Homo sapiens: one gene and its partner. Each later gene encodes a partner of the first gene's protein in a complex. Each region holds a gene or a part of one and is shown on either strand. Other genes may lie near its edges. A codon is read from its position in the direction of its gene.

What was found.
Region 2: the proteins of SLC7A11 (region 1) and SLC3A2 are in contact, whole or in part, in a cryo-EM structure (PDB 7P9V), measured with the Homo sapiens proteins. Residues at the interface, in NP_055146.1 of Homo sapiens: Leu151, Phe154, Phe155, Ile156, Gln157, Cys158, Glu159, Pro161, Leu163, Ala164, Leu167, Ile168, Ala170, Val171, Thr174, Val175 (codon at 2,914), Val178 (codon at 2,923), Gln217 (codon at 6,873), Gln219 (codon at 6,879), Val360, His373, Thr487, Gln489, Ile490, Ile491, Glu493, Val494, Val495; in NP_002385.3 of Homo sapiens: Glu167, Leu170, Ala173, Trp178, Thr181, Arg182, Phe189, Trp190, Trp193, Met196, Leu197, Gly199, Ala200, Ile203, Ile204, Ala207, Arg209, Cys210, Glu212, Leu213, Lys299, Arg534, Gln559.

The regions. Positions count from the first base shown.
Region 1 is NC_000004.12:138,217,306-138,226,235, reverse strand, and holds part of SLC7A11 (cystine/glutamate transporter), read left to right. Parts: intron 1-2,911; coding exon 2,912-3,037; intron 3,038-6,870; coding exon 6,871-6,970; intron 6,971-8,930. UniProt on the Homo sapiens protein: Heterodimer with SLC3A2, that functions as an antiporter by mediating the exchange of extracellular anionic L-cystine and intracellular L-glutamate across the cellular plasma membrane.
Region 2 is NC_000011.10:62,875,461-62,885,255, forward strand, and holds the start of SLC3A2 (amino acid transporter heavy chain SLC3A2), read left to right. Parts: upstream 1-5,435; 5' UTR 5,436-5,558; coding exon of another isoform or gene 5,559-5,563; coding exon 5,564-5,987; intron 5,988-6,238; exon of another isoform or gene 6,239-6,432; coding exon 6,433-6,606; intron 6,607-7,447; coding exon 7,448-7,539; intron 7,540-8,528; exon of another isoform or gene 8,529-8,652; intron 8,653-8,996; coding exon 8,997-9,065; intron 9,066-9,171; coding exon 9,172-9,230; intron 9,231-9,716; coding exon 9,717-9,795. UniProt on the Homo sapiens protein: Acts as a chaperone that facilitates biogenesis and trafficking of functional transporters heterodimers to the plasma membrane.

The DNA of each region.
Region 1 (8,930 bases):
ACTGTTTTCTATAGTGGCTATACTAATTTACATTCCCACCAGCAGTGTACTAGCATCTTAATGAGAATTTTTGTTAAGCTATCTGAGAGGAAAGCAGGGTGAGATGATCAATTCATAATATCTGTTTAATTTTGTCTTCCATTTGCCTAAGAAAACTTTACAAAGTATTTTTTAAAATCCCAAATACCCAGTTTTTTTAATATTTCAATAGACATTAGGTACTTATACTCTTTATGAAAGTAACAAAACCTCTTTCTTATTTTCAAACATATAGTTAGTTGTTCCAAAAATAAGAATGCCTCTCTCTCTCTCCTTCCTTCCTCCCTGCCTGCCTCTTTTCGTTTTTATCCTTCTCCTTTCCTCTCCTTTCTTTTTCTCTCTTTCTCTCTATATAACAGTTCTTTTCTACTGTGGAAAGAACTTTCATAAATACAGAGTGCTTTGGGTTTTAGGAGCCCTATTTGAAAGAAAACACTGCCCTTTTGTTGCTGGTGGCCACATGAGACAATTTTTTCACTTTTACACCAACGTTGAACCTCCTTAATTAAAACAATAATCATTATTGTGTAATGACTCATCACACAGTCATTTGCATAGAAAAGGAAAGGAATCACTGGATGATGGAGCAGGGAGCAGAGTTACACTAACTTATTTTCCATATATAAGTGCCTTATATTGGGGAGAGATAAATAATTTTATTTTTGTGATTCCTCTGATAAAATAATGCACTTTGTCATTGACAACAGACCTGTCTATCCCTTCATGTTTTCAGCTTCCAACACAGATGAAATAACCCCCCTTAGATGCCCCTGTAGCTTATTCAGGGGTTTGGCCTTTTTGATCATTCTCATAATTACTCCTTTGAAATATTTCTTCGTTAGTAACCCTGTATTTCACTTTGTATGAGATCTTCTGATCCCTTATTTTTCCCATCTTGGAGTTTTTTCCAAAAACAAAATGTATTTTATTGCTTCATTTACTTTTGAAAATTTTTTCATCTTTATTGAGGTATATACAACAAATAAAATTGTAATTTTAGGGTGTACAATGTAATGATTTTATTTATATATATATATATATATATATATATATATATAGTGAAATTATTGTCTCAATCAAGTGAGTTAACACCTCTGTCACATCATTTAGTTACCCCTCTTTTTTTTGTTTTGTTCTGTGGTGAGAACATTTAAGTATATTTCAAGTATACAATTCAGTATTTGAAACTATAGCCACCAAAATGCTATATGTTCATCATAAAATTTATTAAACTATTCCTAAAAATAAATTTAAAAAATTGAAAATTATTTAGTGTTCTATCACTTATAAACACCTGCTGTTGATGTTTTGGTAAATATGTTTCCAGATCTATTTCTCCTTCCTTCCTTCCTTCCTTCCTTCCTTCCTTCCTTCCTTCCTTTCATCCTTCCTTCCTTCTTTTCCTTCTTCCTTCCTTCCTTCTTTCCATCCATTCCTCTAACTTGCTGTATTGATCAGTAATATATCATGAATATCCTTTCTTGTAATAAATATTTAACTGCCTCATAATTTTAAGTGGCTGCATATAAACTATTAAAATGATATACCTTAATTAGCCTTCCTTTAGGAGGTTTAGGCTATTTCCATTTTTTTGCCTTTAAAGATTATGTGTTGCTGACATTTGCATTGATTGTTAAATTCTGAAGTGAGCTAGTAACTATATCAGGCAGTGAAAACTGTGAGGCGGACTCATTACTATATATAAGGAAAACTTCCAATTTCAATTTGAATAATAAGAATTCTGTAGGAGTTTTGTTTCATTCTTTGAGAAATATCTTTACATTTTAAATATTTGTTTAGGGAGAATATACCTTTATAAATATAAAGGTTATAGTTAATAACTGTAAATGTCAGGAATAAAGTAGTGTTTTGGGTTGTTCCAAGCATAAGGTTGTGGAAAGAGTATAAAGTTGAAAACCACTGTCTAGAATAACCTCAGTCATCCCAGCAGAGTAGGGGAGAAAGGTCTTAGAGCATCACCATTTCCCTTGTGCCTTAGATTTTCTAACTGAGGATCCAGTTCATTCATTCAACAAAAATGTATTAAGTTACCTGGGCCAGGCATGGAGCTGGATACCAGCGATACAGCGATGAATAACCCTTGCTCTATCCTTGAGGTTTTCATGGTCCACAAGGTGTCGAAGGTGGATAGTTATTGCTGCTTGGGAAATTGTAGACAGCATCAGTAAGAATGAAAAATTCTTCTGGCTTTGAACCCAATGTGCATTCTAGCCTGGTTAGTCTTTTGCACTCATCACTTAGAATATTGTGCTGAAGCCCTGAAACATATCTTGAAAAACTATACTTGTACGGTGGGTTGAAAGTCGCCCCTTGACATGCTAATTAGAAAGAAGACAACCAAAAGAAAAGTGCTGCCTGAGGCTAGTCCTGAGAGTGAAAAATAAGATCTGAGCCAACTTCTACACTTCTTGCTCCTTCTTGAGTGTGATCCACATTGGCAGGCATACCATCATAGAGACAGGAAAGAGTTGTCACATCAAGCTAGACAGTGAAATTCAGCCATCTGATTGGATGCTGGGTTTGGTTAGAAGACATTTTTATGTGATTGTTAGAGTACTACAATATATGTCCACTCTTACATACAAAGAACAAGAGAAGAATTCTTATTGTCCAGAGGCTTTATCCATGTTTCTCAAACTTCAATGTGCATAAAAACCAGCTGGAGAACCTGTTGAAATGTAGATTTGTATTCATTAGGCCTGGGGCAGAGCCTGAGATTCTGCATTTCTAAAACACTTCTAAGTAATGTCAACACTGCTGCCTCACAGATTGCCCTTTGAGTAACAAGGACCTAAAATGTCTTTGTGCCAGTGAGAATTCACCTTTTGTAACTTCCTCTATTTGTTTGCAGCTGTAGTGATGGTCCTAAATAGCATGAGTGTCAGCTGGAGCGCCCGGATCCAGATTTTCTTAACCTTTTGCAAGCTCACAGCAATTCTGATAATTATAGTCCCTGGAGTTATGCAGCTAATTAAAGGTATGGACTGAAAAGCAAATGCTTTTTAAAATACGTATCTGCTTTTGGTCTTTTTTAACACTAACTTTTGCTTGTACTAACAGAATCCTTAATTAGTCTCTGCCTGTGGAACTTAAACTCTATATTGTCATCTAATTGATTTGAAAGGCTGCTACATTGTGAGTGAGTTGGTTTTTACAGTTGAATGGCAGAAAGAGGATTAAGAATGGGCCATGCAACAAAATAAGGCATCAGTGAATTTTCTAGGTTTAATGGTTTGGAGTGAAAACTCGAAGTGGAAAAAAAAAAAACCTGCCACTTAGTTTTAATTAAAGATAAATATGTCTTTTTTTTACTTTAAAATTGTCCAATAATAGTAATAAAAATTAAAGAGAAAAAGGTATCTGGAAAGTGATAAAAGATGATCAATAATTCTTTGACTTTCTGGTTATTATTCCTTTTAAATTGAGAGTGGTATCCTCAACAGAGGAGTCAATACGGGAACAGCATTCCTAAACACCAAAATTATATCACAATAAAATAGTTGTAAAAACTTAATTTTTATTGTTACATTATTTTTAATATAAAATTCGCATTTCTGCGATTACTTGCTTTATAGAGTTTAACATTTAATTTAAAAAAAGAAATTGAGAGGTGACATTTAGAGTTTTTGTTTTAGGAAAGAAGGCACATGCAGTTGCTTGGATTCAGTGGAAATTGTTGGAGGACAGAGATTCACATGTGGTATTTAATTAGCAACAGGAATATAGCAGGAAATAAAGTGAGAAGAAATTGTAAAGGAATGACATAACTTGGGCATGTTAAGTATTTAATGTTTACATTGATATTGTCTGTTCCAAGAAAGGGAATCTAGAGAAATTTAATGACGTTGCAGAAGAATTACACAAGGCAAAAGGAAATGCCAGCGTTTGGTAAAATCATCACTGTTGGTAGAAGCATTAAATAATGACAAACACTGAAGGATCAGCCACTCTGGAGCTGGGAAAGGGAGCTGCTGTTGCCCATTTAATAAGCCTAGTGGGAGATTTTAGAGCCCTGCTGGCGGAAATGCTTTTATGAAATCCAGCAACAGCAGCCAATGCAGAATAAACACAATGAAGATTTTGACCGTTAGAGCTTGCACTGAAGAGAAGACAGGAGCTTGCTCTTCTAATACACCTTGGCCTCCACAGAGCTAGCCTGCTCATTTCTATCTTATTCGTTAGGAATGTAGGCACAATAATCTGTTTTGTTAGTGCTTTATTTTTCTGAGCTAACTCTTCAGTCTTCTGTAAGGAGTTTCTTCAGTATTTGAAAAGTGCAGAATCTCTGGGTCATTGGCTGTTCTTTAATACTAGTTTAGATTCCAAAAGATTATATGCTATCCCTTGAAACTAAGATTTATTTTCTTCTTCTTTTTGGTGTAATGTAAGATACTATAGGTAGCATTATAGACTTTATTCAATTTTTACCAGGTATTTATATATGTATATGAGGAAGGGTTTGGTTGCCCAAATGTTGCTCTATTGCAAATTCCTTGAGAGCAGAGGTCATGATATATCTTGAGGTTTTTTTAGTGGCTAAAATACAGAGACACTTTAATCAATAATCATGATATCAATGCTTAATGTGACAGGCTTATTCAGAGATCTCACACAACAGAGAAATTCCCTGAGAATATTACCGCATTTAATGTAAATTTAACATTTTAGAGACCATTATTAGCAGGTATATTTGCTCGATTGCTGTAAAATTGTGATTTTCTTCATCTCTAACATGATCACACATTTTTCACATTAATCTGAAACTCTAGTAGGAGACTTTGTTAATACAGATTGTGCTTTTATTTCTATTCTAATCATATCCTGAAAGTAGTTGTATGTTATGTATTCACTTATGAGAGTTTGTTGAACTTTCCTTTGAATATTGCCTTTAATCTTCATGAGACCTCTGTTATATAGCCAAAATATTCCTGAATTCTAGAAACAAAATGCCTCTCTTTTGTAATATTCTCAAAATGGCACTTTTGAAGATCTTTGCTTGTGACCCAGTCTTTATAGAATTTGGTTTTTCTTATGGATTATTTGGTGCTGCACTCTAAGAAATATTGTGCCTTTATGCCAAAGAGACCACAGATTATGATAAAAGAATATTCAACAGATGCTTTTATCTGAATTCCACTATTTATATTTTTCTCCTGGAAGGACACAATGATGTTTTAGTAAAATGGGCATTTCTGAATTTATCATGTCATTTAAAAAGTGAGCTATGTTTGGGAATCATTTGAGAGAAAAATTGTTTAGTATATAATTCAACATTCTCCATTTTTGGTCTTCATACTCACACATATTATATTTATATATAAGTTATGCCTGGGCAATGAATGCAGGAAAAACTGAGATTTGACTTGGAAGAGAGAGTGTCTCATACACATCATCCACCCCCTGTCCCCCTTCTGTTTATTTACATGAAGTTTTATTTTAAAACAAAGTCTCACTTCCCATTTGGGTAATCTCATTTGCTATTTTCTTTGGGTAATAGAAACATTTTTTCTGCTTAAGCTTGAATATTGACTGACTAAAGTAAATCTGAATTTCTAACTTTTAAAACTATTCAAAAGATATAAAAGAAAAAGCTCCAATGTGATTCATAAAATAGAGAAAAAGGTGAAGTGTTCAATTCACATGCTGCTGCAAAATTTGTTGAAACCTATTTATTTTAGAGTTCATTATAATATCTTTTCAATATTTCTAGGAAAAAAAACATGTCATTCTCTAGGACAGGGTCACAGAGTGAGTGGACTTTCTCTGTAAAGGACAAGAGAGTAAATATTTTCAATTTTTCAAGCTAGCTGTATGGTCTCAACTCTGCTATTATAGGTTGAAATCAGCCATAGGCAATACTTCATGAATGGGTAATACTTCATGAATGGGCATTTTTAACTTATAGATAAAGAAAACTTTATCTATAAGAAAGGCTTGCAGCCAGACGCAGTGGCTCACACCTGTAATCCTAACACTTTGGGAGGCCGAGGCGGGCGGATCACAAGATCAGGAGTTCAAGACCAGCCTGGCCAACATGGTGAAACCCCATCTCTACTAAAAATATGAAAATTAGTTGGGCATGATGGCGCGCTCCTGTAATCCCAGCTACTCAGGAGGCTGAGGCTGGAGAATCACTTGAACCCAGGAGGCGGAGGTTGCAGTGAGCCAAGATTGTGCCACTGCACTCCAGCCTGGGCCACAGAGTGAGACTCCATCTTGAAAAAAATAAAAAAAGAAAGGCTTGCAGTTTGGGTTGACACACATGGTCTTCAGGATTTTCCAACTTCTCTTCTAGGAGGTAGGCATCTAATGAACAACATGGGATAAACAGAAAGCAGAAAGGTAAATTGTGTAGGAAAGGAGTCCTGGGATTTATTTCCATCTCCTCATTAAGGGTAGAACCTTGGATACCTCTCCGCATTTTCTTGCCAAGCAAAACATTATCTTTTTAAGAATTCTATCTTTTAAGAATTCTATCATATTCATAAAGATTATAATTTACAGAAAACCCTTTAGTCTTCTTTTATGGTCACAATAGAGGCATACTCAAACAGAGGATTATTTTTCAATGCCATTTTCATCTTTGTTATAAATTTATTAAAAGAGAAATATGAAATAGTGTTAATGATCAATATACTTTTGGGACCCCTTCTATAGAATGGGTACAGTATTGATAAAGATGGTAATCAACAGAGAGTAAGAAATCTAGACTTACAACAGTATGTTTCTCCGCACCCCCATGTTTCTGGTTAAGAGTGAATAAGAACCAATTCTTTGAAAAATCCTAAAATCAGTCTATTCTAATTACAGGTCAAACGCAGAACTTTAAAGACGCCTTTTCAGGAAGAGATTCAAGTATTACGCGGTTGCCACTGGCTTTTTATTATGGAATGTATGCATATGCTGGCTGGTAAGTTGATAGCTCCAGATCTGGTGGTTTGCGTAGTTCATTAATCCCATTATGCACTCAGATTAAGTGCCAAGCAAGGTGCCAGGCAAATGTGAATAGCCATAATCCAGTGTGATAGGCTTTACTTGAAATGAGAAATAAGGTATTATCCCCTCCACCAGGCCAATTACTTTGCACATGACAACTAAACATAACAGGTTTCCAGTCAAGGTGACTGCTAGATTTAGCCTGATGTCATAAAAAACAAACAAATGCTGGGTCTTAAGATCCAATAAAAATTACTTATAAGTATGTACCAGTAAGGACATAATAGTGCCGTAAGGTACTAAAGAATAATACTTCGCTTGTCAAAAGGCCTTTCAGCTAAAGCTCCAAGGGTGTTTACAAATAGTGATTAATTGATTTTTTTTTCCAGCTTCTCGTGAGAGAAGTAACTCAGATGTAGAAATAAGTATGACATTCCCAGAAGGTAAATGGTAATCTAAAGGCAGAGAAAGAGAAACCAAGATAATGCAGTCAACTCTTCTAGACAGTCTATTACATTTAAAAGGACCTTACATGTTCCTTAAAATGTCCCCAACATCTGAAAATTTAAAAAAGTGAAGATGATTAAAATCATGATGCCACAGATATATTTCCTTTGATGTATGTCCACCTGTGATACCTACCTTTCTAGTTAAGGCATTAAAACTTTGTATTTGTACCTTATTTGTTCAGATACTTGAAAAACAGTAATCATGTAATCATGGATAAGAGTGGGACTTTCTCTTCAGTAAATTTTATTGACCTTGTAAGATTTAGTTGAGATGATGGTTGCAAGAAAGCCTACAAGGTATTATTTAATTATCAAAATCATTGTAGTAAGATTAAATTTCATTGTTTTGGGATAAATCATGGCAATGTTTATTTTTTAATTATCTATAAATCTCATTGTTATACAGCTTTAGCTGTGAGAATGATCTATGAGCCTGGAAGTAATATTAGGAAACCACACTAGCTAAAAAATTATATGAATGCATTTCCAACACAAATATAATTCCTTTTGTTTTTTTAGTTTTTAAGATCTTACCTTCTAGCCGATGCATGGAATATGGATATATTTCAAAATGAATGGAGCGTTTACCCTATTAATCTCATTGAATTATGAAAATATGGTATTAGAGGATAATTAGGGGGTATGGGAACTTAAAATCTTAACATGGCCTTTGAGGCAAAATATGCTTGAAGATTGTTAGAAGATTATAGCTCTAAGGAAATCAGTGTAAAATATTTGTATATTCCCAGAATATTTTTATAACCATTATATGTAAGCATTAGTTTTGAATCACTCAGTATTTTTGAAGTCTTTTTGCTTTTGTCTGAAGCACAATGTGGTGCTAGACATCAAAAGAACTGAGCGTGATCACAGGGTTAAAGCAGAATCAACTGTTCTATGGCTATTCAGCCTGGATCAGAGCTCTGTGCCCTGGGGCTGAAGCCAAGCTACTGGGAGGGTCACTGGGAGACACCAGAGCAAAGCGGGGAGGTAGAGAAAGCTTTCAGCTACAGCCAAGTGTTGGGAGCCGGGCAATATGCAACCACGAGTGTGGAATGTGAAGATAGTCACAAGGGAGGTTTGATTAATTCTGTTGAATGAAATTTCTTTTGCCTGAGAGTACGATAGATCTGTTCCCATGCCATCTTAAAATATTCTTTTACCCTCCTCACTTTTCTAATACCCAGAACTAAAAATTCAGGTCACTTGCTTTATGTAGAGCAAAATTTCTCCGCTTATGTAGGCTTTTGAGGGCTGATGAATTTCTCCATGGATGAAGACCCTTTTCATTTTGAATTATTGTACTAATATTTAACTTTATTGATGCTGACCCCAAAATGTTTCTCTGATTACAAGGTAAAAGGGGTTTACATGAATCTTTTTTAATACTTTTACCCATATAATCCTCATGTCTACTCCCTATTT
Region 2 (9,795 bases), on another chromosome or scaffold:
GGAAGGCAGAGCTTGTAGTGAGCTGAGATCGCACCACTGTACTCCAGCCTGGGCGACAGAGCGAGACTTCATCTCAAAAAAAAAAGTCCTTCTTAGATGTTTTTAGTTGTTTGTTTATTTTTCGAGATGGAGTTTTGCTCTTGTTGCCCAGGCTGAAGTGCAATGGCACGATCTGGGCCCATTGCAACCTCTGCCTCCCAGGTTCAAGCGATTCTCCTGCCTCAGCCTCCTGAGTAGCTGGGATTACAGGCAGCCACCACCATGCCCAGCTCATTTTTGTATTTTTAGTAGAGATGGGGTTTCACCACGTTGGCCAGGCTGGTCTCAAACTCCTGACCTCAGGTGATCCGCCCGCCTCAGCCTCTCAAAGTGCTGGGATTGCAGGCATGAGCCACTGCGCCCAGCCTGTTTGTTTGTTTTCAGATAGGGTCACCCTGTCAGCCAGGCTGGAATGCAATGGTGTGATTGTGATCACAGCTCACTGCTGCCTCAACCTGAGGGCTCAAGTGATCCTCCCACTTCAGCCTCCTTAGTAACTGGGACCACAGGGGTGAGCCACCATGCCTGGCTAATTTGTTAATTTTTGTAGAGATGGGGTCTCCCTATGTTGCCGAGGCTGGTCTCAAACTACTGGGCTTAAGTGATCCTCCTGCCTTAGCTTCCCAGAGCGCTGGGATTAAAGGCATGAGCTGCTGTGCCTGGTCAATCCTTTTTACATGTTTGAGGAAAAATAAATGTCCTGTTTTCAGGCTAAGATCAAGTAATAATCCTCATGTGTTAGGAAGCATGTGACATGGATTTTTGCAGCAGAGGGTTAGAAAGGAACTTTCTTTATATACTTGGCCCCCTGCATTTCAGGGCTCCACCGCCATCTGTCTGTCTGAGTGTAAAGTGGACCTTATTGGCATCTGGGCTGCCAAACTGCTTTTTTTCCTTTGCTTTGCCCAGCCTTCTCTTGAAGGCTAAATTCTTGAAAAATTATATTCTTTGTGTTCCTATAGTAAATATTAAGCTTTATATCAACACATATGGCAGGATCTGAGGCTCTTTACTCACCTCTGGTCCATTTCTCTAGTCTTTTCTCTGTAGTCTTTTTGTTTTCCTGTCCTCCATCTCCTAATTTATTAGTTTTATTATTATATTTTATATTATTTTTTTGAGACAGAGTTTTGCTCTTGTTGCCCAGGCTGGAGTGCAATGGCGCGATCTTGGCTCACTGCAATCCCTGCCTCATGGGTTCAAGTGATTTGTCTGCCACAGCCTCCTGAGTAGCTGAAATTACAGGCACGCACCACCATACCTGGCTAATTTTTGTATTTTTAGTAGAAACGGGGTTTCACCATGTTAGCCAGGCTGATATTGAATTCCTGACCTCAATTGATCCGACTGCCTCGGCCTCCGGAAGTGCTGGGATTACAGGTGAGCCACAGTGCCTGGCAGTTTGTTTTATTTTGGTTGAACAGTTACAAGTCTTGGTTTGTTTTCCTGCAGCAACAGGTTTATCTTGATATGATACAGCGTTATTTAAATTCCTTTTCATTTTCCTGCCTTTGTCTTCACATGCTAGTTTTTTTCAGTTGTTTCTTTTTTCTTCTTCCTTTTCTTTTTTTTTTTTTTTGAGAGATAGTCTTGCTGTGTTGTCCAGGTTGCAGTACAGTGGTGCGATCTGGGCTCACTGCAACCTCTGCCTCCTGGGTTCAAGTGATTCTCTCACCTCAGCCTCCGGAGTAGCTGGGATTACAGGTGCCCACCACCACGCCTGGCTAATTTTTGTATTTTTAGTAGAGACAGCGTTTCACCATGTTGGCCAGGCTGGTCTTGAACTCCTGACCTCAATTGATCTGCCTGCCTTGGTCTCCCAAAGTGCTGATTACAGGTGTGATCCACCGTGCCTAGCCTGTTTAGTTGTTTCTAAGAAGGGAGATATTGGTTTTGATTGACATAGTTCATCCACTTATTTACCAAACACTTGCGAAGTGCCTACTATATGCTGCCTCCGAATAGGCAGGTTCGTCCACAATAGCACAAGGCTCCTGCCACTTGTCTTCAAGGACAAAGAGACATCCAGACAAACAAATGTAATAAACAAATGGGACATGATTGTAGCAGAGGCAGATGCATGGTGGAGGGAAAGTAATTTTGTCTGGGGAGTTGAGAAAAGCTGTCACTTGAGCTAGATCTTGAATGAATAGGAACTCATGAGGTTGAGTGGACAAACAGGAAGGGCCAACAGCAGAGGTATGGCATGTACAAGATGCAGAGCTCTGCCTGAAAAAGCCTGGTGTGTTGTGAGTCTGGCAGGTGTTTGAAGGCTGATGTGGCTGGAGGCTAGTGCCTGTGAAGCAGGTGGTGGCTGATAAGATTGGAGAGGCAAGCTGTTATCCTCTTTATGCATGCAGAAGGAATTGACTTCAGGCTGGGCACAGTGGCTCATGCCTGTAATCCCAGCACTTTGGGAGGCTGAGGCGGGCAGATCACCTGAAGTTAGGAGTTCAAGACCAGCCTGGCCAACATGGTGAAACCCTGTCTCTCCTAAAAATACAAAATTAGCCGGGTGTGGCGGTGCACGCCTCCTATAATCTCAACTACTGGGGAGGCTCAGGAAGAAGAATCGCTTGAACCTGAGAGGCACAGGTTGCAGTGAGCTGAGATCGCGCCACTGCACTCCATGCTGGGTGACAGTGTGAGACCCTGTCTCAAAAAAAAAAAAACAAAAAACAAAAGGAATTGACTTCAGCCATTTGGAGCCATGAGGATCTGTGAGTGAGATACTGTGTCATGTTGGACCATCTCAAAGACAGCTTCTGACCCCACAGTTCTCAACCTTGTTCTTACTTATTTTTAGAGACAGGGTCTCGCTCTGTCTCCTAGGCTGGTATGCAGTGGTGCCACCATGGCTCACTGCAGCCTCACAAACTCCTGGACTCAAGTGATCCTCCTGCTTTTGCTTCCCTTGAGTGTTGGCATCTCATGGGACTCCAGGGGCACATCACCAATTACAGATGATAATTTTTTTTTTTTTTGAGACGGAGTCTTGCTCTGTATCCCAGGCTGGAGTGCAGTGGCGCGATTTTGGCTCACTGCAAGCTCCGCCTCCCAGGTTCACGTCATTCTCCTGCCTCAGCCTCCTAAGTAGCTGGGACTACAGGCACCCGCCACCACGCCTGGCTGATTTTTTTTTTTTTTTTTTGCATTTTTAGTAGAGACGGGGTTTCACTGTGTTAGCCAGGATGGTCTCGGTCTCCTGACCTCTTGATCCACCTGCCTCGGCCTCCCAAAGTGCTGGTATTACAGGTGTGAGACACCACGCCTGGCCTTTTTTTTTCTTTTTTGAGACAGAGTCTCACTCTGTCACCCAGGCTGGAGTGCAGCCGCGCAATCTTGGCTCACTGCAACCTCTGCCTCTCGGGTTCAAGCGATTCTCATGCCTCACCCCTCCAAGTCTGGGACTACAGGCGTGTGCTACTATGTCCAGTTAATTTTTGTATTTTTAGTAGAGATGGGGTTTCACCATGTTGGCCAGGCTGGTCACGAACTCCTGACCTCAAGTTATCCGCCACCCTCAGCCTCCCAAAGTGCTGGGATTACAGGTGTCAGCCACCACACCTGGCCTGTTAGTTTTTTTGAGGCAGAGTCTTGCTCTATCACCCAGACTGGAGTGCAGTGGCCCATTCTTGGCTCACTGCAACCTCTACCTCCTGGGTTCAAGCGATTCTCATGCCACAGCATGAGAAGTGGGATTACAGGGATTAGTAGGTGGGATTACAGGTGTGAGCCACCACACCCAGCCAGGCCCAGATAATTTTAAAATTTATTTTTTTATTTATTTAGAAATGGAGTCTCACTATGTTGCCCCGTCTGGTCTTAAACTCCTGGCCTCAAGGAATCCTCCCTCCTTGGCCTCCTAAAGGGCTAGGTGACAGGCATGAGTCACACTGCGCCCAGCCTTGAGCTTTTGTGCTCGAGATATAGTCCATTCAGAACCTCTGGTTGGCACTTCTTATCTGGCACATGCAGGGCACCTTGGATCTCTTATTATCTTTGAGCACTGGTCTGAACCCACTTGCTTGCCTTCTCCCAGGGGCTGCCCCGTGCACCCCTTGTTCCTAGGGTGGGGATGGGGTTGGATGCCTGGGGTTGCAGAGGGGACTAGCAGAGGGTGACCCTTTTCTCTATGCTATTACTTCAGATCTTGGCTTTTGCTTTCTTCCAAATACACAGCAATCTTGGCTTCCAGCCTAGGTGGGAAAGGGAGAAAGAACCGATTTCCTCCAGCTCCTCTCTGAAAGTAGCCCAACTGGCACTGTTTAGGAACAAGGAGTTCCTGAGAGTGTTGGCACCCCACGGTGTTGATGTCCGGTAGTTCCCTGCTGTGAACCCTGTCTCTGCCCCACTTCAATCCAAGGACCCTGTGGAGGGAATTCTAGGCTTCTTCAAAGCCTCTGCAGTACCAGCTGCCTCCAAGGCCTAACATAGTGAAGTGATAGGGAGACAGGACCTTGGGGGAGTTTGGGGATAACTGTGGGAGTTCCTGCAAGGTGGGTAAGAGTCTGGCCATGGCATCTTCTGGTCTATTCCACAAAAAAGGTGGATGCCTCTGAGACCTAGCTCTGTTATGTTCATTACAGCCCTATCAGTCTCTTCTGGATGTCTGATTCCTAGCTGCCAAACATCCAGGTGCTAGCAGCTGGGGGTGGGGTAGGATAAGAAGGGGGGTGTCTACCTCAACCTTCCTGCCCAAACCATTCATTTTAAAGTACTGTGAAGAAGGCTGGATTAGTGTTAAATTCAATAAAGTTAACAAAGCAAAGTATTGTAGTGAGTACACAATAAATAGTTGCTGCATGAGGAATTTCTTGAAATGAATTCAAGATGAGTCTTGAAAAACGAGTGGGAGTAAGCCGTGCACGGAAGCAGAGGTCTAGCAGAGGTCTAGCGCCAAGTCCCAGAGGCCTGAGAGGGCAAGCCTTGGTGGGGGAAAAGGCAGAAGTTGTGACTGGCTGCCTCTGAGAGTGCAAGTAGCCATGCAAAGTTGGGAAAACCAGACGGCGGCCGGAGCCGTGAACCAGGGGCAAATGGAGGATGGTGTTGGGGTAGTCACTAGCCTGCCGGAATGGAAGAAGAGGGGCGTTTGGGGGCGGTAAGGCCTAAAGGACACTGGAGGGGCCTCGGGATTTGGGGCAGGATCACAGGCCTAGTCCACTTAAAGGTGGCTCCGTGCCAGGCCTTCCCAGAATCAGGTTGAAAAGAACTTTAGGGTTAGACAGGTTGGAGATGAGAAATTGGACCATGCAGGAAGTACTGTCGGAGGCGTGTTCCTGACTTTACTACCCTGAGCCGCCCACGGCTGGGGCAGTCCCCGAGGTTCCACCTTAAGGGGCGGGCCGGGGCGGGGCTCCGCTGCCCCTTCCCAGAGGCCGCGCCTGCTGCTGAGCAGATGCAGTAGCCGAAACTGCGCGGAGGCACAGAGGCCGGGGAGAGCGTTCTGGGTCCGAGGGTCCAGGTAGGGGTTGAGCCACCATCTGACCGCAAGCTGCGTCGTGTCGCCGGTTCTGCAGGCACCATGAGCCAGGACACCGAGGTGGATATGAAGGAGGTGGAGCTGAATGAGTTAGAGCCCGAGAAGCAGCCGATGAACGCGGCGTCTGGGGCGGCCATGTCCCTGGCGGGAGCCGAGAAGAATGGTCTGGTGAAGATCAAGGTGGCGGAAGACGAGGCGGAGGCGGCAGCCGCGGCTAAGTTCACGGGCCTGTCCAAGGAGGAGCTGCTGAAGGTGGCAGGCAGCCCCGGCTGGGTACGCACCCGCTGGGCACTGCTGCTGCTCTTCTGGCTCGGCTGGCTCGGCATGCTTGCTGGTGCCGTGGTCATAATCGTGCGAGCGCCGCGTTGTCGCGAGCTACCGGCGCAGAAGTGGTGGCACACGGGCGCCCTCTACCGCATCGGCGACCTTCAGGCCTTCCAGGGCCACGGCGCGGGCAACCTGGCGGGTGAGTGCAGCGCGCCCCCGTCCCGGGTACCTCCGGTTGAATCTGGTGGCTTGCACCGACCCCCTCCCCTGTCCCCAGACGGATCTAGATGGTTCTTCCCTCCATCCCGTACCGACGACTGTTCCCCCTTCCCCCACCCCCTCCCCGGCACATTGTCCTTCCCTCCTTTCTTTGAAGAAAGCCGACCCGCCCCTCACTCCGTCACGAGGGTGGGTGACTCAGCGTCCTCCTTCCCCGCGGCGCCAGAAGCCAGTTGCAACCGGTTTCTGAAGTAATGTGCAGGACTCCTTACATCAGCTCCTCTGAGTCTCGTGATTCAGCCTTGCCTCCCTCTCTCCCCCTTTGCCCCCTCCCCGTCCCACCCTTAGGCGCTGGGAGAAGGGAGGGTGGGGAGGTCAGGGGCCTCTCAGAGGGGCCTCACTTGTTAACCCAGCCCCCATTTCAGGTCTGAAGGGGCGTCTCGATTACCTGAGCTCTCTGAAGGTGAAGGGCCTTGTGCTGGGTCCAATTCACAAGAACCAGAAGGATGATGTCGCTCAGACTGACTTGCTGCAGATCGACCCCAATTTTGGCTCCAAGGAAGATTTTGACAGTCTCTTGCAATCGGCTAAAAAAAAGAGTGGGTATCCTGGGGTTCCCAAGGAAACAGCTAGAAAGGACTTGGCCAGAGGAAAAGTAGGCTAGAACTTTTGTCTGGTTTCCTGCTAACTGGCTCTGAGTTTTCCTAGGGCAGGTAGAGGGGAGATTTGTTAGTCTTCAGCCTAAAATGGATTTGTCCAGTCGTCTGGGGGCTTTCTACTTGGCTGTGGAATCTTGAGCAGGTCATTTAACTTCTGGGCTTCAGTGCCCTTATTTGCAAAATATAGATATTTACTAAACCAGTGGTTTTAAACTTGTAAAACAGTAGGTTTTTTTGGGGGGGGGGAATCCCAAATATTGTTTTACGACTCGATATAGACACATGTTTAAAAAGGTTCACTTTGGGAGTGGGGAACACAGGGGCCACTTCTCTGCACTATAAACTTTCTGCCTTCCAATATCTTTTTTTTTTTTTGAGATGGAGTCTCACTCTTGTCACCCAGGCTGCAGTGCAGTGGAACGATCTCAGCTTACTGCAGCCTCCTCCCCCAGGGTTCAAGCGATTCTCGTGCCTCAGCCTCCTGAGTAGCTGGTACTACAGCCGTGTGCCACCACACCCAGATAATTTTTTTATTTTTAGTAGAGACAATTTTCAACATGTTGACCGGTCTGGTTTTGAACTCGCCTGGCCTGCCTTCCCATATCTTAAGGCCCTTCCTTGCTCACATCTGTTTCAATGGAATGAATTTTGCCCGGGTTCAAATTCAAGCTTTTGTACCAAGTAATACATAGGAAACACTCAGTGACTTGCATTTGTGATTTCCTTATTTTCCCTTAACTCATAGACTGTCTCATGATTGCGTCTTCCTCCGTTGTTTTAGGCATCCGTGTCATTCTGGACCTTACTCCCAACTACCGGGGTGAGAACTCGTGGTTCTCCACTCAGGTTGACACTGTGGCCACCAAGGTGAAGGTGAGTGTTGGAGCTGATGGCTGGTGGAAGTCAGATGCTGGGGCTGGGACAGTCCTTTCACAGCAAGCCCTGTAGACCCAGCCTGACTCCAGCTGAGGGTCCCTTTGCTCCTTAGGACCAAGGAGGAATGCCTCCTCCTATAGCCAAAGGATAGGCCAATAGCACACCTGTTTTTCTTGTTCCTTTTCTGACCTCTTATTTTTCTTATTTCCTTGACTCTGAGGATGAGACAGTGCCAGGAAGGGACCTTCTCAGAAGTCAGTCTGGAAGTTTGATTTTTCTTTCTTTTGGGAGAGGAAGCCCTTTCTCTGTGAGAATCCTGTCCTGACTGGTTTCCCAGTTCTTGTTTGATGTGTTTGGAATAGAGCCCAGTCTGAAATTATAAGCACTGGGGTACTCCTATGTGTCTGGGACTCTATGCCAAGTATTTTATAGATGTTTTCTAATTCTCTGTATAACCATACAAGGTATATAATTTGCCATAGGTTCAAATGTGTACCCAGCAGGCTAGGAGTAGGGCTTTGAATGTCACCTAGCTCCTGATGTCTGGGTCCTAGGACACTGACCTGTTCAGAATGGGTAGAACAAAAATGGAAGCAGATACTGACACTGCTGGTAGCTGTGATTCTAAGATAGAATTCTGGACTCCCAGCATTTGGGTAGGACCCCGGGATCATCCAGTTTAGGCCTTGCCAGTTACTAGGGGACCCTTTAAAAGTTGCTGATGAGGGAATGTTTTTGGATGGTTTGGCATGAGGGGCGGTACCCTCAGATGGAAATGGAGACCAGAGGAGAGAGTACATGGCCCAGAGAAAGGGAAGAAAAGGAGAATGGGGGTGAAGTTCCACAGTGTGTGCAGGACTGCCAGGATTCCATTCAGCAGCACTGGCCTCTTTTCAAATCTAAACTGCCCTGGGGCTATGCTTTGAATTTCAATCTTTCATCCTTGGCCTTGCTCTGAGCAGTTATTGTACTCACACCTTCCCCAGGCCTCAGGAAACTGGGAGAGGGGGGATCTTGACTGACATTTTAGATCCTGTCTGCTGCTCACTGATTATGACTGTGGACGCGTCTCCCTGCTTCTCTGGGTCTGTTTCTTCATCTCTAAAATAGGTATGCTAACATTCCAATGCTAAGTGTTAAACGAAGTTATGTTTATGGACATACCTTTTCTCTGGGGCCTTTTCTGTGGCTTTCAAAGTTGAAGCTGTGTGATTTGCCAGAGGCAAGAATGAGAAGTAAAATGCTGTAGCACTAAGAAAATGAGTGGAAGGGTAGAGCTGGAGGGGTCCAAAGGCTAAGCCTTTGTAGTGCAGGTGGGGAAGACCCAGGCAAGGCACAGGACTCTCCCCAGCTCCCGGGGAAGTGTGTGGTGGGTGAGGTTTAGTGTGGGCTGGAATTTTCTGAGCCTTTTCCTGAGAACTGATGTCTGTCCTTTATTCTTCTGCCCCCTATAGGATGCTCTGGAGTTTTGGCTGCAAGCTGGCGTGGATGGGTTCCAGGTTCGGGACATAGAGAATCTGAAGGTGAGTTCCCTTTCCACATTAGGGACAAAGCTTGGGCGAGAACAGAGGGACTCAGCTAGAGCCTCATAATATTCTCTGGTCCTTGATTCTGCTTTTTTCTTTCTAGGATGCATCCTCATTCTTGGCTGAGTGGCAAAATATCACCAAGGGCTTCAGTGAAGACAGGTGGGTGCAGGAGCCATTCTGCTGACTCAGCTCCAATGTGGGAACCCCTCAGTGGAGTGCTAGGCCTAAGAAGGGGGGATTCCTAGTCTAGAGCATTTTCTTTACCTTTATTCTTTCTTTAGCTTTTTTTTTTTTTTTTTTTTTTTTTTTTTTTTTTTGAGATGGAGTTCCGCTCTTTTTGCCCAGGCTGGGGTGCGATGGCGTGATCTTGGCTCACTGCAACCTCTGCCTCCTGGGTTCAAGCGATTCTCCTGCCTCAGCATCCCAAGTAGCTGGGATTACAGACGCGGGCCACCACACCTGGCTAATTTTGTATTTTTAGTAGAGACGGGGTTTCTCCATGTTGGTCAAGCCAGTCTCGAACTCCTGACCTCAAGTGATCCACCCGCCTCAGCCTCCCAAAGTGTTGGGATTACAGGCGTGAGCCACTGCGCCTGGCCCCATTCTTTCTTGTGCTAACCTTGAACTCCTCCCTCCCCTCTGCAGGCTCTTGATTGCGGGGACTAACTCCTCCGACCTTCAGCAGATCCTGAGCCTACTCGAATCCAACAAAGACTTGCTGTTG